Homo sapiens: one gene and its partner. The protein of the gene in region 2 interacts with the protein of the main gene of each other region in a pairwise test. Each region holds a gene or a part of one and is shown on either strand. Other genes may lie near its edges.

The links.
Region 1: the proteins of TCF24 (region 2) and MAGEC3 interact in binary tests that used the Homo sapiens proteins (3 or more experiments, as listed by UniProt).

The regions. Positions count from the first base shown.
Region 1 is NC_000023.11:141,861,324-141,869,838, reverse strand, and holds part of MAGEC3 (melanoma-associated antigen C3), read right to left. Parts: intron 4,369-8,515; coding exon 4,234-4,368; intron 1-4,233.
Region 2 is NC_000008.11:66,951,452-66,959,966, forward strand, and holds part of TCF24 (transcription factor 24), read right to left. Parts: intron 1-8,515. UniProt on the Homo sapiens protein: Putative transcription factor.

The DNA of each region.
Region 1 (8,515 bases), on a different chromosome or scaffold from region 2:
AAATATGTGCTATTAATCATAATTAAAGTTGTTATGTTAGGTTATTGTAAACCACAGAAATAACCAAATTTCTTTGTCAGTTGTGTTTCTAATTGTATCCAAACTAGACATTTTGTTATTTACAGACAATCGTTATTTTCTTTTAATTCTCTTCAAAACATGATTTATAATCAAGCTGTGTCGCCTTAGCAAGTGCTCTCAAATGGAGGTTTCTCACAACAACAACAACAAAAAATGTACAGAACTCATGAACAGCTAAAATGTTTATAAATATCAAGCAAAACAAAAGTTAATAAAATGGACTAAACTAATAAAAAACAGAAACAAGTTTTACCTTTTGCTTAAAACACTGCTAATCCTTATTTTACTTTTCAAAGTCAAGAAAACTTGTCTTAAGCTAGCTACAGCCTTTAACAACTAAGCAAAGTATACTCCTGTAAAGTGAATTTAAAGGTTGTTTGTTTCTTTCTGCCTAGTTCCTCTAAAATTTAAAAACTAGTTGTAAGTATTCTTACATTACAACAATATAGTTGTTTGCATAAGCACAATAAGAACCTGTTTTCTTTTGTAACAGAACACAATTAAAAAAAAAACTGGTTATTTTACCAAGGCTTTAACTGGAATGGTATGCTCTCCTTTAAAAAATCAAAGAACTGGCCGGGCGCGGTGGCTCACGCCTGTAATCCCAGCACTTTGGGAGACCGAGGCAGGTGGATTACGAGATCAGGAGATCGAGACCATCCTGGCTAACACGGTGAAACCCGATCTCTACTAAAAATGCAAAAAAAAATTAGCCAGGTGGGGTGGCGGGCACCTGTAGTCGCAGCTACTCGGGAGGCTGAGGCAGGAGAATGGCGTGAACCCGAGAGGCGGAGCTTGCAGTGAGCCGAGATAGCACCACTGCACTCCCGCCTGGGTGAAAGAGCGAGACTCCATGTCAAAAATAAAAATAAAAATAAATAAATAAATAAATAAATAAATAAAATAAAAATTTTAAAAAAAATCAAAGAACTTATATAGCCAATAAAACCCTTGAAAAATCGACCTCGTATTTTGTGTACACAGTCCCTGTACAGAGTTTCTAATCTATGGTAAGTAAAGAATGTCACTTTCTAACAGGCCAGGAATCCCAAGTGATCTTAGAACCTCAAGAAAAAAAATTTGCCCAACTCATAGGTATTTAATGGTACAAATCCATGGCTAGGCTTGGCTTTTAAAAGTCTTATCTCAAATTCCTTCCATGAAACAAAGTTCCATCAAAGCCAATTTAAAAGGTCTAGTAGCAAATTCTTGCTGCACTGTATATAAATAATTAAGCCAAGTATAATAAAGCAAATCAATCCTACCATAATTTGTCTTTTAATAAAAATGGGAAACTGAAAAAGGAAAATTATGTTTCAAAAACTGTAGCTCACCTGTTGTTAAATTCTAGTCTGGCCTAATGTTTTTCAATTTTTATTATTTGCTACAGTTTAAACTATATCTGTTACAGAAATTAACTCCTGGATACATCACACTCAAATCAAAGCCTAAAAAGCTAAGAAAGCAACCCCTAACAGCCCAGAAAAAGTCCTAAATATTAATGTAAATAAATAAAAAATCTTAAGCTGAAAATCATAAAAAATAAGTAATGGAGTAAAAATTACCCATTTTACTCAATCTCACCCCTACCTCACCAAATACTTTTTTTCATTTCTACCTCTCCTTTTTTTTTTGAAGGCGGAGTCTCGCTCTGTCGCCCAGGCTGGAGTGCACTGGCGCCATCTCGGCTCACTGCAAGCTCCGCCTCCCGGGTTCACACCATTCTGCTGCCTCAGCCTCCCAAGTAGCTGGGACTACAGGCGCCCACCACCACTCCTGGCTAATTTTTTTGTATTTTTAGTAGAGATTTGGTTTCACCGTGTTAGCCAGGATGGTCTGGATCTCCTGACCTCATGATCCGCCCGCCTTGGCCTCCCAAAGTGCTGGAATTACAGGCGTGAGCCACCATGCCCAGCCTCTACCTCTCCTTTTAAGCCAAATATTAAAACATTTTTAATAAAAATTATTTACTATGCAACCCTTGCAGGAATTGCTTTACTCACTCTACTATTTGCAGGAGGACTATATACTGTAACACCCTCAAGGTAAAATATCAGACAGAAAATCTCAGTTACTATAACATTTTGCTCAATTATTATCCTCATAGCAGCAGTAACAGTTACTAACAAAAAATAATGCATAGGCCTTTCCAGTTTTATTTTAGAAAAATACACCCGAGAGGGGTTTTTGGGCAAGTTAGGTTAGAGGCACTCTTTTCGTTTGTTTGTTTTGTTTTGTTTTTACAGACTAAGAGTTTTTAAGGATTTAGGGCGGGAGAGTTTATCAGAGACTTGGACTGCCTCTGTGTTTCTTTGTTGTGCTTATCTGGGAGGGAGAATTTTGGGTCTGTTCCCATACATCTTCCTGCAGCTGCAGGCATACTCCCTGAGTCTGCTTTTAACTTCTCTTAGTGCACCTGAAGGGAAAGGAATGTGCTTATTAAGGCCCATTGTTTTACTGGGGCCCACTGTATGAAGGTGAAGTTAATAAATCTGTCTTTAGCTGTCAAGCCACCTTTCCTGTTTCTTTCTTCTTTCTTTGATTCTTACAACTGTAAGGCTACAGTAATAACAAAGAAAGTATGGCATTGGTTAAAGGATAGATTTTTTTTTAATGGAACAGAAGAGATAATCCAAAGGAAGGCCCCAGTGAGGTCCATTCAGTGTTTACAAATGTCTCAAGACAACTGAATTGAGAAAATTAGTGGTGGTTTTTTTTTTTCTGAAAACCTTTCTTTTGTTTATATTTTATTTCATCACTTTCTCTCTTCTTCATCTAACCTCCCTTGGCTATTGTCCTTCACTCAAAGGCACCCATTCTTGCTTGTTTTGTGAATGTCTATTTCACTATTCATATATTAATTTACGCATACGTGAAAGTATGTAATATTATTGTGTGTGTGTGTTAAATGTACAGAAGTAGTATTTGGTCAGAAATCTTGCTTCATTTCTTATTTTGAAGGTAAGCCTTATTTGAGCTTCATTTTCATTGCAGCATATAGATTTGGTTTATTTATCAGATACCTGGATAAATTCCTTTTTTATGTGTTACTTCATTTTACTTATGAAATCCCCTAGTGGTTACTTTTTACTCTTTGAAATTATGCTCAATTAATATTCATTTACATGTTTCGTTGTGCATTTATATGAGTTTCTGTGGGCCTATATCCAGGAAGGAAATTACAAAGTTGTAGAGTACAAGCGCTGTAGGCTTGATTGCTTTCCAAAAAGGTTGCACTAGCTTGCATTTCTATTAGCACTACAAGAGTGTTTTTGTTTTTTCACATTGTCATCAGCACTTGATATTGTTTGTTTTTCTACTTTTTGACAATTAAATGTGTGTAAAGTGGTATTTTAATCAGTGCTATGAGTTCAACTGGACATCCACATGCAAAAATATAAAATAAAATTTACCTGAATTGCATACTTAATATAAAAATTTTTTTAACATGGATTACAGCTCCATGGATTATAATTAAATTAGAAGCTATAAAACTTATGAGAAAACATAGGAGGAAATCTTTTGAACTGGACTTAGGCGAAGAGATGTAATACCTGAAACTAAATCATGATTCATTTAAGAAAATGATATATTAGACTTCCTCAATTTTAAAAATCTTTTCTTCCCAGGGCTAAGAGTGGAAACGGACTGGATTCTGTGAGGTCCCTGTGTACTTCTCAATTTCTCAAGGTAATCATATTTACTCTTGATCAGGGTCTTCACCCCGGCCCTTCTGCTGACTTGAGGCTGGCTTCCTCACACCAAGGATATCACCTCCATGAAATCCTCTAAAAGGATGTCAGGGGATAGGGAGAGTTGTTGCTACCTGATACCCATGCATGGGACCTCTCAGGATTCACACGAAGAGGAAGGTTCTTTGAAGCTCAGTCCATCTATAGAGGAAGGCTATCTTTGTCCTTTCTCTGCATTCTCACCTTAATGCATGCTGGAGCTGGAACTTCTCTCTCTGCTGACTTGAGTCTAAGGTGAGGAAGCCTCACCTCCCTCAGGCCCCAAAAATGAAGTCTACGGACATCAAAACTGGGGAAACCTGCCTTGGGCCACCCAGGGCTAACAGCACAGGGAGGGCAGGGCTAAAACTCCCTATATCTGTGGCAGGAGGTCCCCTCAGTCTTTCCTTAGAGTCCTTACCTTGAAGTATGTGGGGCAGAGGACAAGACTATCCATTCGCTGATCTGAAGTTCCACCCCTCAGAAAAAGCCTCACCTCCCTCAGATGCCCAAGATGAAAGGCAGAATAGTCCTTATCTGTGGCCTTTTTCCGGGGCTACTCAGGTCAAATATCAGGGGCAGGACTAGGCTGGGGCAACCTCTACCTGTGATGGAAGATCTACTCTATTCTTCTTTAGTGTCTTTCCCTTGATGAGTGAAAGCAATTAGAGAAAAAAAATGTCAAATTAAAAAGTATAAAATTTTATAAGAAAATATAAGGTAAATCTTATGACTTGGAATTAGGAAAAGATGCCTCAAAAATAAAACCAAAATTCAAAAAGAAACAATATATCAGACATCCTCAATAATTTTAAAAATTAGTTTTGAGAAAGACACTGTTGAGAGCAGAAAAAGTCAAACAACAGGTTGAAAAAAAATTTATAAATTACATATCCAAAAAGCACCTGTATCCAGAATACAGAAAGGGCTTTCAAAATCCAAAAATTAGAAAACATTTTCAAAATGGGCAAAATACACCAATAGACACTTTTCTAAAATTGACATACAAATGTTAAATAAGCACCTGAAAAATTATCCTACATCATTAGATTTTACAGAAAAACAAATTAAAATCAAGGTAGATGCATCATATTTTTGAGGACTGCTGAAAAATCCACTGACATTACTAACTGCTAGCAAGGATGAAGAGCATCTTGAACACTATTGTGTTTCCTGTGTGAATGTAAAATTGTGCAGTCACTATCTGGAAATTTCTTTTATTTCCCCCAGACTTCTTTTTTTTAAATTTATTTTAAGTTCAGGAGCACATGTGCAGGTTTGTTACATGGGTAAACTTGTGTTGTGGGGGTTTGTTGTACAGATTATTTCATCATCCAGGTATTAAACCTAGTACCCATTAGTTATTTTTCCTGATCCTCTCCCTCCTGCCATCCTCCAACCTCCAACAGGCTTCTCTGTGTGTTGTTCTTCTCTGTGCATCTATGTGTTCTCATAATTTAGCTCCTACTTATAAGTGAGAACATGCAGTATTTTGTTTTCTGTTCCTGCGTTAGTTTCCTAAGGATAATCGCCTACAGCCCCATCGATGTTCCTGCAAAGAACATGATCTCATTATAAACATACACTTACCATATGACTCAGAAATACCATTACTGTGTGAAATAAATTTGCAAACCTTATGTTCTCACAAAAACCTGTACATTCATTTTTATTATCTTTTTTCATTTTAATTTTTTTTTTTTTTTTTTTGTAGAGATGAGGTCTCACTATGTTGCCTAGGCTGGTCTTGAACTCCTGGGCTCAAGAGATCCTCCTGCTTCAGCTACCCAGAGCACTGGGATTATAAGCGTGAGCCACCATGCCCAGGCCAGAAACCTATACATGAATGTTTATAGTAGCTCTATTCATACTTCCAAAAGCTGAAAAATATGAAATGTCTTTCTGTAAGTGAATGGATTAACAAATTGAGGTGCATCCACACAATGGAATTCTATAGACCAACAAGGAGGAATCAACTATTGACATGCACAGCAATTTGGGTTGAATCCCCTATGCCTCACCTTTGTAGTCAACTAACAGCCTCCTCCAAGTCCCTAGTAATGGTGATCTGTTTTTCGTATCTTTTTACCTTTTTTGGAATGTCTATAAATCAGATAATACAATGCTTTCATCGAACGAGTGCTATATATTTTTTCCAACCAGCAATAAATGAGAGTAGTTCCTTTTGTTTCACATTATCTCTTATATCTGATATTTTAGGATTTTTAGCCACTCTAATTAGTATGTAGTAGAATCTTATTGTGGTTTAATTTGCACTTCCCCAAGGATAAATTATGCTGAGCATCTTTTCATATAATTTTGTGATCTGTATATCTTTTTTATTGAAGTGTATTTTCAAATACCTTGCATATTTTAAAATGAATAGGCTTTATGTTCTAGAATATTATTATGTTTTACCAAAACAAATTGATAAGAAAATACAGAGTTCTCACATATCCACTAACCTCCCCACAGTTTTCCATATTGTTTACATCTTGTAATGTGGTACACGTACTGCAATTGATGAATGTATGTTAATATATTATTATTAACTAAAATTTACAATTTAGCTAGGGTTCATTCTTTGTTTTACATTCTGTAGATATTGACAAATATATAATGTCATGTATCCACTCTTACAGTATCACATAGAATCGTTTCACCGTCCTAAAATGCCCCTGTGTCCCATCTAGTCATCCCTCTTCCTCCTTCCAACGAACCTCCAACAACAACTTATCCTTGCATTGTCTCTATAGTTTTGCTTGTTCTAGAATATCATAGATTTGGTATGATATACTCTGTAGGATTTTTTCACACTTTAAAAACCTTTATAAATAATTTTTTAAAATAAACAAAATAGATAAGGTAGTAGTGAAACTCCGTATATCCATTTCTCAGATTCTGCAATTTCAAGATTTTTAAGAATCATTTTTAAGTTTTTTTGCTATAAAAATATATGTACTTATTTATGGGGTACATGTGAAATCTGGTTACATGTATAGAATGTGTAATAAACAAGTCTGGGTATTTGGGATATCTGTGACCCAAGTTTTTATCATTTCTATGTGCTGGTGCATTTCATGCTCTCTCTTCTAGCTATTTTGAAAATTACAATACATTGCTGTTACTACAATCACCCTGCTCTGCAGTCAACATTAGAAACTATTAATTCTACCTAACTGTATGTTTGTACCCACTAACCAACCTCTCTTCACCACCCCAACCCCTGCTGAAACCATTCACTCACACTCCCCAGTCTCTGGTGTCCGTCATTCCACTTTTTATCTCCATGTGATCAACACTTTATCTCACACATATGAGTAAGAACATGTGATATTTGTCTTTCTGTGCCTGGTTTACATCATTTAACATAAAGACCTGGAGTTCCATCCATGTTGCTGCAAATAAAACTTCTTTCTTTTCATGGCAGAATAATATTCCATTGTGGATATATACCACATTTTCCTTATCCATTCTCCCTTGGTGGACATCTGGGTAGAATCTGTATCTTTGCTGTTGTGAATGGTGCTTCAGTAAACATGAATATGCAGGTATTCCTTTGATATATTGATTCCTTTCCCTTTGGATAAATAGCCAGTAGTGGATTTGCTGGATCATATGATAGTTCTTTTTTTCAGTTTTCTGAGAAATAGCAATACTGTTTTCCATTGCATTTGTACTGATTTACATTCTCACAACAGTGTATAAGAGTTTCCTTTTTCCCACATCCTCACCAGCATCTGATTTTTTTTTGTCTTTTCATAATAGGCATTCTACCTATGGTAAGATAATATCTCATTGGGGTTTTGATCTGTATTTACCTGATGCTTAGAGATATTAAGCATTTTTCCCATACTTGTTGGCCATTAGTATGTCTTTTTTGGATAAATGTGTATTCGTGTCATTTGTCTACTTTTTAATGGGATTTTAAAAAATTGTTGAGTTGTCTGACTTCCTGATATATGCTCAGTAGTAGTCCCTGGTTGGATAAATCATTTGCAAATATTTTCTTCCTTTCAAGGAAGGGAATTGTCTCTTCACTTTGTTTATTGGTTCCTTTGCTGAGCAGAAACTTTTTAGTGTAATATAGTCCCATTTGCCTATTTTTGTGTTTGTTGCATTTGCTTTTGAAATCTTAGCCATACAATCTTTGCCTGGACCAATGTTCTGAAGAGCTTTCCTTATTCTCTTCCAGTAGTTTTATACTTTCAGGTTTTACCTTTAAGTAAAATCTTCAGTTGTCTTATCTCAAGTTGATTTTTGTATATGGTAAAAAGTAGGAGTCCAGTTTCATTCTTCTGCATCTGGTTATCCACATATTCCAGCACCATTACTGAAGAGGCTGCCCTTTCCCCAGTGTATGTTCTTGATGGCTTTGTTGAAGATCAGATGGTTGTAAATATATGGATTTGTTTTTGGGTTTTTCATTTCATTCCATTGTGTCTACTTTTTATATCAATGCCATGCTGTTTTGGTTACTATAGCTTATACAATATTTTGAAGTCAGGTAGTGTTACGCCTCCAGCTTTTCTCTTTTTGCTGAGGATTACTTTGGTTATTGTGGCTCTTTTTTGGCTCCATACAAATTTTCATATTTTTTTTCTAATTCTGTGAAAAACGGCATTGATATTTTGATGGAAATTGCACTGAATCTGTAGATTTCTTTGGCAGGTATGGTTATTTTAATTATATTAATTCTTCTG
Region 2 (8,515 bases):
ATGGTGGATAAGCTTTTTGATGTGCTGCTGGATTCGTTTTGCCAGTATTTTATTGAGGATTTTTGCATCAATGTTCATCAAGGATATTGGCTTCTAAAATTCTCTTTTTTGGTTGTGTCTCTGCCCGGCTTTGGTATCAGAATGATGCTGGCCTCATAAAATGAGTTAGGGAGGATTCCCTCTTTTTCTGTTGAGTAGAATAGTTTCAGAAGGAATGGTACCAGTTCCTCCTTGTACCTCTGGTAGAATTCGGCTGTGAATCCATCTGGTCCTGGACTCTTTTTGGTTGGTAAACTATTGATTATTGCCACACTTTCAGCTCCTGTTATTGGTCTATTCAGAGATTCAACTTCTTCCTGGTTTAGTCTTGGGAGAGTGTATGTGTCAAGGAATTTATCCATTTCTTCTAGATTTTCTAGTTTATTTGCGTAGAGGTGTTTGTAGTATTCTCTGATGGTAGTTTGTATTTCTGTGGGATCGGTGGTGATATCCCCTTTATCATTTTTTATTGTGTCTATTTGATTCTTCTCTCTTTTTTTCTTTATTAGTCTTGCTAGCAGTCTATCAATTTTGTTGATCCTTTCAAAAAACCAGCTCCTGGATTCATTAATTTTTTGAAGGGTTTTTTGTGTCTCTATTTCCTTCATTTCTGCTCTGATTTTAGTTATTTCTTGCCTTCTGCTAGCTTTTGAATGTGTTTGCTCTTGCTTTTCTAGTTCTTTTAATTGTGATGTTAGGATGTCAATTTTGGATCTTTCCTGCTTTCTCTTGTGGGCATTTAGTGCTATAAATTTCCCTCTACACACTGCTTTGAATGCGTCCCAGAGATTCTGGTATGTTGTGTCTTTGTTCTCGTTGGTTTCAAAGAACATCTTTATTTCTGCCTTCATTTCGTTATGTATCCAGTAGTCATTCAGGAGCAGGTTGTTCAGTTTCCATGTAGTTGAGCGGTTTTGAGTGAGATTCTTAATCCTGAGTTCTAGTTTGATTGCACTGTGGTCTGAGAGATAGTTTGTTATAATCTCTGTTCTTTTACATTTGCTGAGGAGAGCTTTACTTCCAAGTATGTGGTCAATTTTGGAATAGGTGTGGTGTGGTGCTGAAAAAAATGCATATTCTGTTGATTTGGGGTGGAGAGTTCTGTAGATGTCTATTAGGTCCGCTTGGAGCAGAGCTGAGTTCAATTCCTGGGTATCCTTGTTGACTTTCTGTCTCGTTGATCTGTCTAATGTTGACAGTGGGGTGTTAAAGTCTCCCATTATTAATGTGTGGGAGTCTAAGTCTCTTTGTAGGTCACTCAGGACTTGCTTTATGAATCTAGGTGCTCCTGTATTGGGCGCATATATATTTAGGATAGTTAGCTCTTCTTGTTGAATTGATCCCTTTACCATTATGTAATGGCCTTCTTTGTCTCTTTTGATCTTTGTTGGTTTAAAGTCTGTTTTATCAGAGACTAGGATTGCAACCCCTGCCTTTTTTTGTTTTCCATTTGCTTGGTAGATCTTCCTCCATCCTTTTATTTTGAGCCTATGTGTGTCTCTGCACGTGAGATGGGTTTCCTGAATACAGCACACTGATGGGTCTTGACTCTTTATCCAATTTGCCAGTCTGTGTCTTTTAATTGGAGCATTTAGTCCATTTACATTTAAAGTTAATATTGTTATGTGTGAATTTGATCCTGTCATTATGATGTTAGCTGGTGATTTTGCTCGTTAGTTGATGCAGTTTCTTCCTAGTCTCGATGATCTTTACATTTTGACATGATTTTGCAGCGGCTGGTACCGGTTGTTCCTTTCCATGTTTAGCGCTTCCTTCAGGAGCTCTTTTAGGGCGGGCCTGGTGGTGACAAAATCTCTCAGCATTTGCTTGTCTGTAAAGTATTTTATTTCTCCTTCACTTATGAAGCTTAGTTTGGCTGGATATGAAATTCTGGGTTGAAAATTCTTTTCTTTAAGAATGTTGAATATTGGCCCCCACTCTCTTCTGGCTTGTAAGGTTTCTGCCGAGAGATCCGCTGTTAGTCTGATGGGCTTCCCTTTGAGGGTAACCCGACCTTTCTCTCTGGCTGCCCTTAACATTTTTTCCTTCATTTCAACTTTGGTGAATCTGACAATTATGTGTCTTGGAGTTGCTCTTCTCGAGGAGTATCTTTGTGGCGTTCTCTGTATTTCCTGAATCTGAATGTTGGCCTGTCTTGCTAGATTGGGGAAGTTCTCCTGGATAATATCCTGCAGAGTGTTTTCCAACTTGGTTCCATTCTCCCCGTCACTTTCAGGTACACCAATCAGACATAGATTTGGTCTTTTCACATAGTCCCATATTTCTTGGAGGCTTTGCTCAGTTCTTTTTATTCTTTTTTCTCTAAACTTCCCTTCTCGCTTCATTTCATTCATTTCATCTTCCATTGCTGATACCCTTTCTTCCAGTTGATCGCATTGGCTCCTGAGGCTTCTGCATTCTTCACGTAGTTCTCGAGCCTTGGTTTTCAGCTCCATCAGCTCCTTTAAGCACTTCTCTGTATTGGTTATTCTAGTTATACATTCTTCTAAATTTTTTTCAAAGTTTTCAACTTCTTTGCCTTTGGTTTGAATGTCCTCCCATAGCTCGGAATAATTTGATCGTCTGAAGCCTTCTTCTCTCAGCTCGTCAAAGTCATTCTCCATCCAGCTTTGTTCCGTTGCTGGTGAGGAACTGCGTTCCTTTGGAGGAGGAGAGGTGCTCTGCATTTTAGAGTTTCCAGTATTTCTGTTCTGTTTTTCCCCATCTTTGTGGTTTTATCTACTTTTGGTCTTTGATGATGTGATGTACAGATGGGTTTTTGGTGTGGATGTCCTTTCTGTTTGTTAGTTTTCCTTCTAACAGACAGGACCCTCAGCTGCAGGTCTGTTGGAATACCCTGCCGTGTGAGGTGTCAGTGTGCCCCTGCTCGGGGGTGCCTCCCAGTTAGGCTGCTCGGGGGTCAGGGGTCAGGGACCCACTTGAGGAGGCAGTCTGCCCGTTCTCAGATCTCCAGCTGCGTGCTGGGAGAACCACTGCTCTCTTCAAAGCTGTCAGACAGGGACATTTGAGTCTGCAGAGGTTACTGCTGTCTTTTTGTTTGTCTGTGCCCTGCCCCCAGAGGTGGAGCCTACAGAGGCAGGCAGGCCTCCTTGAGCTGTGGTGGGCTCCACCCAGTTCGAGCTTCCAGGCTGCTTTGTTTACCTAAGCAAGCCTGGGCAATGGCGGGCGCCCCTCCCCCAGCCTCGCTGCCGCCTTGCAGTTTGATCTCAGACTGCTGTGCTAGCAATCAGTGAGACTCCGTGGGCGTAGGACCCTCCGAGCCAGGTGCGGGATATAATCTCGTGGTGTGCCGTTTTTTAAGCCGGTCCGAAAAGCGCAATATTCGGGTGGGAGTGACCCAATTTTCCAGGTGCGTCCGTCATCCCTTTCTTTGACTCGGAAAGGGAACTCCCTGACCCCTTGCGCTTCCCAAGTGAGGCAATGCCTCGCCCTGCCTTGGCTCGCACACGGTGCGCGCACCCACTGACCTGCGCCCACTGTCTGGCACTGCCTAGTGAGATGAACCCGGTACCTCAGATGGGAATGCAGAAATCACCCGTCTTCTGCGTCGCTCACGCTGGGAGCTGTATACCGGAGCTGTTCCTATTCGGCCATCTTGGCTCCTCCCCTCGACATCATCTAGCTCTAACCTTTTGGTAATCATCACATTTGAATTACTGATGGTGATTTTTCTAAATTCATCTTTATGGTGGGCAATCTCTCAAACAATATAATTTATTGCCAGACAGACATAATGATGAAAAAACATATTACATGAGTAGTTCTTTCAGAATAAAACTCTTTTGGGAGGGAGGCAGGTGTCATATAATCAGTTAAGTTCTAAGATCCTTGGAATACTACTTTTGTTTTTTTTTACTACAGAGAGGGACTAAAAAAAAAAAAAATACAACTCCTAAAGGTCAGCAATCTGGTCCCACACTCTCCAGGGAGCAAGTGCTGCCTTATGTAAGCAGGCTACTTATCTTCATCACGGAACACACACAGGCCAACTGCTAGTTACATAGCACCATAAAATGTTTTTAAATGCCTGGTAGATAATCCACAGTGCTCAAATAGAGGTACAATTATTAACATGCCAAAGAACATTAAGAGCTCTGGGTTCACAACCCAAGTTGCTAATATTAGACTCACCCAGAGAGCTTTAAATAAATACTGATGGCAAAGTCACACCCCAGACCAATTAAGTCAGAATGGACTATTACTTCTGTTACAGAGTTAATAGAATGTAAGCAGAGTTAGATCTTAGATGGAATAATATAAACTCTCATTGCACTTGTGAGCACAGTTATTTTCACCTAAACTGGGACTCCAAATGTAAAACATAGCCATAAAGAATAAGTGGGCATGTGATACTATCTGGAAAGTTTTGTTCTGTGGCAACCAACCAAAGTCCTAATTTTTATTTTTTTAAATTTATTTTATTATTATTTTTTTTTATGAGACAGGGTCTCATTCTGCTGCACAGGCTGGAGTGGTAGTGGTGTGATCATGGCTCACTGCAGCTTAAACCTGCTGGGTTCATGCAATCTTCCTGCCTCAGCTTCCTGAGTTAGGACTACAGGTGCGTGCTACCACGCTGGGCTAATTAAAAACTTGTTTGTTTGTTTGTTTGTTTGTTTTTACAGAGGCAGAGTCTCACTATGTTGCTTTGAGTTCAAGGGTGGTCTTGAACTCCTGGGCTCAAGTGAGCCTCCTGCCTCAGCCTCCCAAAGTGCTGGGATTACAGGTGGTGAGCCACCATGCCTGGACTCAATTTTTAAAAATAATACATATGCATTCCTATACATTCTAGGTGTATCATTGTCAGTGGTCCTGTTCCTGGGATCTTTGCCAAAGATAAACTAATGTGTTTTTTATTTTTATTTTTTTTGAGACAGAGTCTTGCTCTGTCACCCAGGCTGGAGTGCAGTGGCAGATCTTGGCTCACTGCAACCTCCACCTCCTGGGTTCAAGTGATTCTCCTGCCTGAGCCTCCCAAGTAGCTGGGATTACAGGCATGTGCCACCATGCCCGGCTAATTTTTGTATTTTTAGTAGAGATGGGGTTTTGCCATGTTGGCCAGGCTGGTCCCGAACTCCTGACCGCAAGTGACCCGCCCGCCTCAGCCTTCCAAAGTGCTGGGATTACAGTGTAAGCCACCACGCCCAGCCAAACTAATATGTTTTAGAAACTGGAGTGAGGTTTATCTGATATATCAAGATCTGGCATTGTTATATCAGATTAAAGTCCTTCATTATGCTGAAGACCCCAGTGCTGTAGTGTTACAGACTGAATGTTTGTGTCCTTCCAAAATGTACATGTTGAAGCTCTTACCTCTAAGGTGATGGGATTTAAAGACCAGGCCTTTGGGAGGTAAAAAGAGTTAGATTAGCTCATGAGGGACTAATACCCATTTAAGAAGAGGAGAATCGGGCCGGGGGCAGTGGCTCATGCCTGTAAGCCCAGCACTTTAGGAGACTGAGGCGGGCAGATTACAAGGTCAAGAGATCAAAACCATCCTGGGCAACATGGGAATCGCTTCAACCCAGGAGGCGGAGGTTGCAGTAAGTCCAGATCGCACCACTACACTCTAGCCTGACGACAGAGCAAGACTCCGTCTCAAAAAAAAAAAAAAAAAAAAAAAAAAAGGCTGGATGCAGTGGCTCATGTAATCCCAGTACTTTGGGAGGCCGAGGTGGGTGGATCACCTGAGGTCAGGAATTTAAGACCAGCCTGGCCAGCACGGTGAAACCCTGTCTCTACCAAAAATACAAATATTAGCTGGGCGTGGTGGTGGGCATCCATAATCCCAGCTACTTGGGAGGCTGAGGCAGAAGAATTGCTTGAACCCAGGAGGCGGAGGTTGCAGTGAGCCGAGATCACACCACTGCACTCCAGCTTAGGCAATAAGAGTGAAACTCCATATCAAAAAAAAAAAAAAAAAAAGAGGAATCTCTCTCTCTCTGTGTACATGTAGAGGCCAAGTGAGAACACAGAGAGAAGTGGGCCATCTACAAGCTAGCAAGATAGCCCTTCCGAGGAACTAAACCCTGCATCTTGATTTTGGATTTTCCAGTCTCCAGACTGTGGGAAAATAAATTTCTGTTGTTTAAAAGAGCCAGTCTGTGGTATTTTGTTATGGCAGACTAATACATATAGTGAATAGTGTAGCACAGATATCAACTTTAAGTGCATAATTTGTGGCTACATTATATACCAGTGCTTTGAAACCTTTTACCTGCCCCATTTTCATAAGCATAAAAATCTCATGCTCAAATGTCAAATGTAAATTGAGAATTATATGAACTAAATACACTTGAAAGCAAATAAAATTAAAATACTACTGAATGCTCTACTGGTGGTCCTCTTACATGCTATCCAGGTCCCACTGTGTTAAGAATTGCTAAAAAAAAAAAAAAAAAAAAAAAAAAAAAGAATTGCTCTAAATCATTCAGCCAAGTGTGGAGACAAATGAAGGCGTCTATTTCATCCTTGCTAGGATAAAATTAACGAAGCAAACCTAAAATTGTATATGTGAAATTGTGCCTCCTTTTTCATGGATTAATAAAATAAATATTCTTTTTTAAGAATATTGTGTCCTTGATTTTCAAAAAGGCTTGTAATGATTTTATTGAACTTAATTTAATGTAGACACACAGTTTTAAGAGTCTGAAATTAAAATGTACATAGAATATTGGTTAGGTTGCATGTCATCAGGATGCCAAAAAAGCCAGTTGACTGATTTACATTTTCTTTTCAACAGTTTGTTTCAGGATTGTGCAGATTAACACAATCCTTACTTAGCTCTACTTTCCCTCATAGGGTATCTTTAAAACCATTTACTGTAGTTTCATTAAGCTTAGAAAATTTAGCAAACTCATAATTAACTAGAACTGAACCTGAAACTGAAGACCTTAAAAATCCCAGCTCTTGGGAGGCTGAGGTGGGTGGATCATGAGGTCAGGAGATCAAGACCATCCTGGCCAACATGGTGAAACTCCATGTCTACTAAATACAAAAATTAGCCAGGTGTGGTATTGCACGCCTATAGTCCCAGCTACTCGGGAAGCTGAGGCAGGGGAATCACTTGAACATGGGAGACGGAGGTTGCAGTGAGCTGAGATCGCACCACTGCACTCTAGCTTGGGTGACAGAGAGAGACTCCATCTCAAACAACAACAACAAAAAAGCACTTAATTAAGTGACTCAAAAGTAACAAAACCCTGTTATCTATTTTTTTCAATTATTGTTTACCTATCATAGACAATGATTATTAAATAAGGGGCACAATAATAAAGTCATCTGTGTTTTTCTGCCAATGTAGAGATCTGAAATACACTCCTGTTTCTTAGCGAATCACTGCCTTTTGGGCAGCTGATGCTGATGGAAATAAATTGCTCATACCCCACAGGGATTAAAAACTGCCATTTCAGGCTATGCACCAGGTTCCCAGTCTCTTAAACTTCCAGTTTCATTTGAGATGTTTGTTTTCTTTTTTGAGACAGGGTCTTGCTCAGTTGCCCAGGCATGCAGTGGTGCAATGTAGCCACAATCTCTTGGGCTCAAGCAGTCCTCTCGCATAAGCCTCCCCAGTAGCTGGGACTACAGGTGCACACACCACAGCCACCTAATTTTTAAAATTCTTAGTAGAGAGGAAGTCTTGCTATGAAATGCTCTTAAAGTAAATCCCCAACAGTGGTAATGTGCTAACAATACTGATAATAAGGACTGATGATTCAAAATAATGGCCTTGAAATATTTGTTAAAAAGCTTTGATCATCAGGGTAAGACCTAACACTATGTTGTAAGGCAGAAAAATGAAGTCATTTTAGAACACTTTTTACAAACAATAGTTTATAATGAGCCTTTAGTTGACCATAAAAGTATAAATAGTTAGGATATTTTAATTTCTTTCGCATTAATCAAAGGTAGACAATGTTTAAACATTTTGGTAGTGTCTGTAAAATAATGTGTTAACAGTTAACAGGCGGTTTCAATTATGTACATAACATCTCTTTCCTCTGAACTTCCGTAGCACATAATTATAGTTCTTTTATGGAAAATATAACATTCTCACTTCCAACACTGTTATTTGTTTCTTTGTCTTTGTCTCAATAATATGTTCATATAGGAAAGGGACTGAGTCTTATTAATTGTGTTCACTCCCCTAAAATAGTGCTTTGCACATAGTAGGAATTCAATAAATGTTTGATTTTAAAACATGCTTGATTTTAGTCACTTGTTCAAGCAACATTAATTTCATTTAAAAAAATAATCCTTGGCTTTGGATCATTATCTCTAGAGTTGTCTTTTAAAATAAAAACAATCAATATTTACAAATAAAAACAGTTATGATTACAAAAACATTTGGTACATGAATCAAGTGCAAAAAGACGCTTGCTATGCTTATTATTACATGGAAATGATGCTTCCAACATTATTCATTCAAAAAAAGCATTCCAAGAAAATAAGTTGA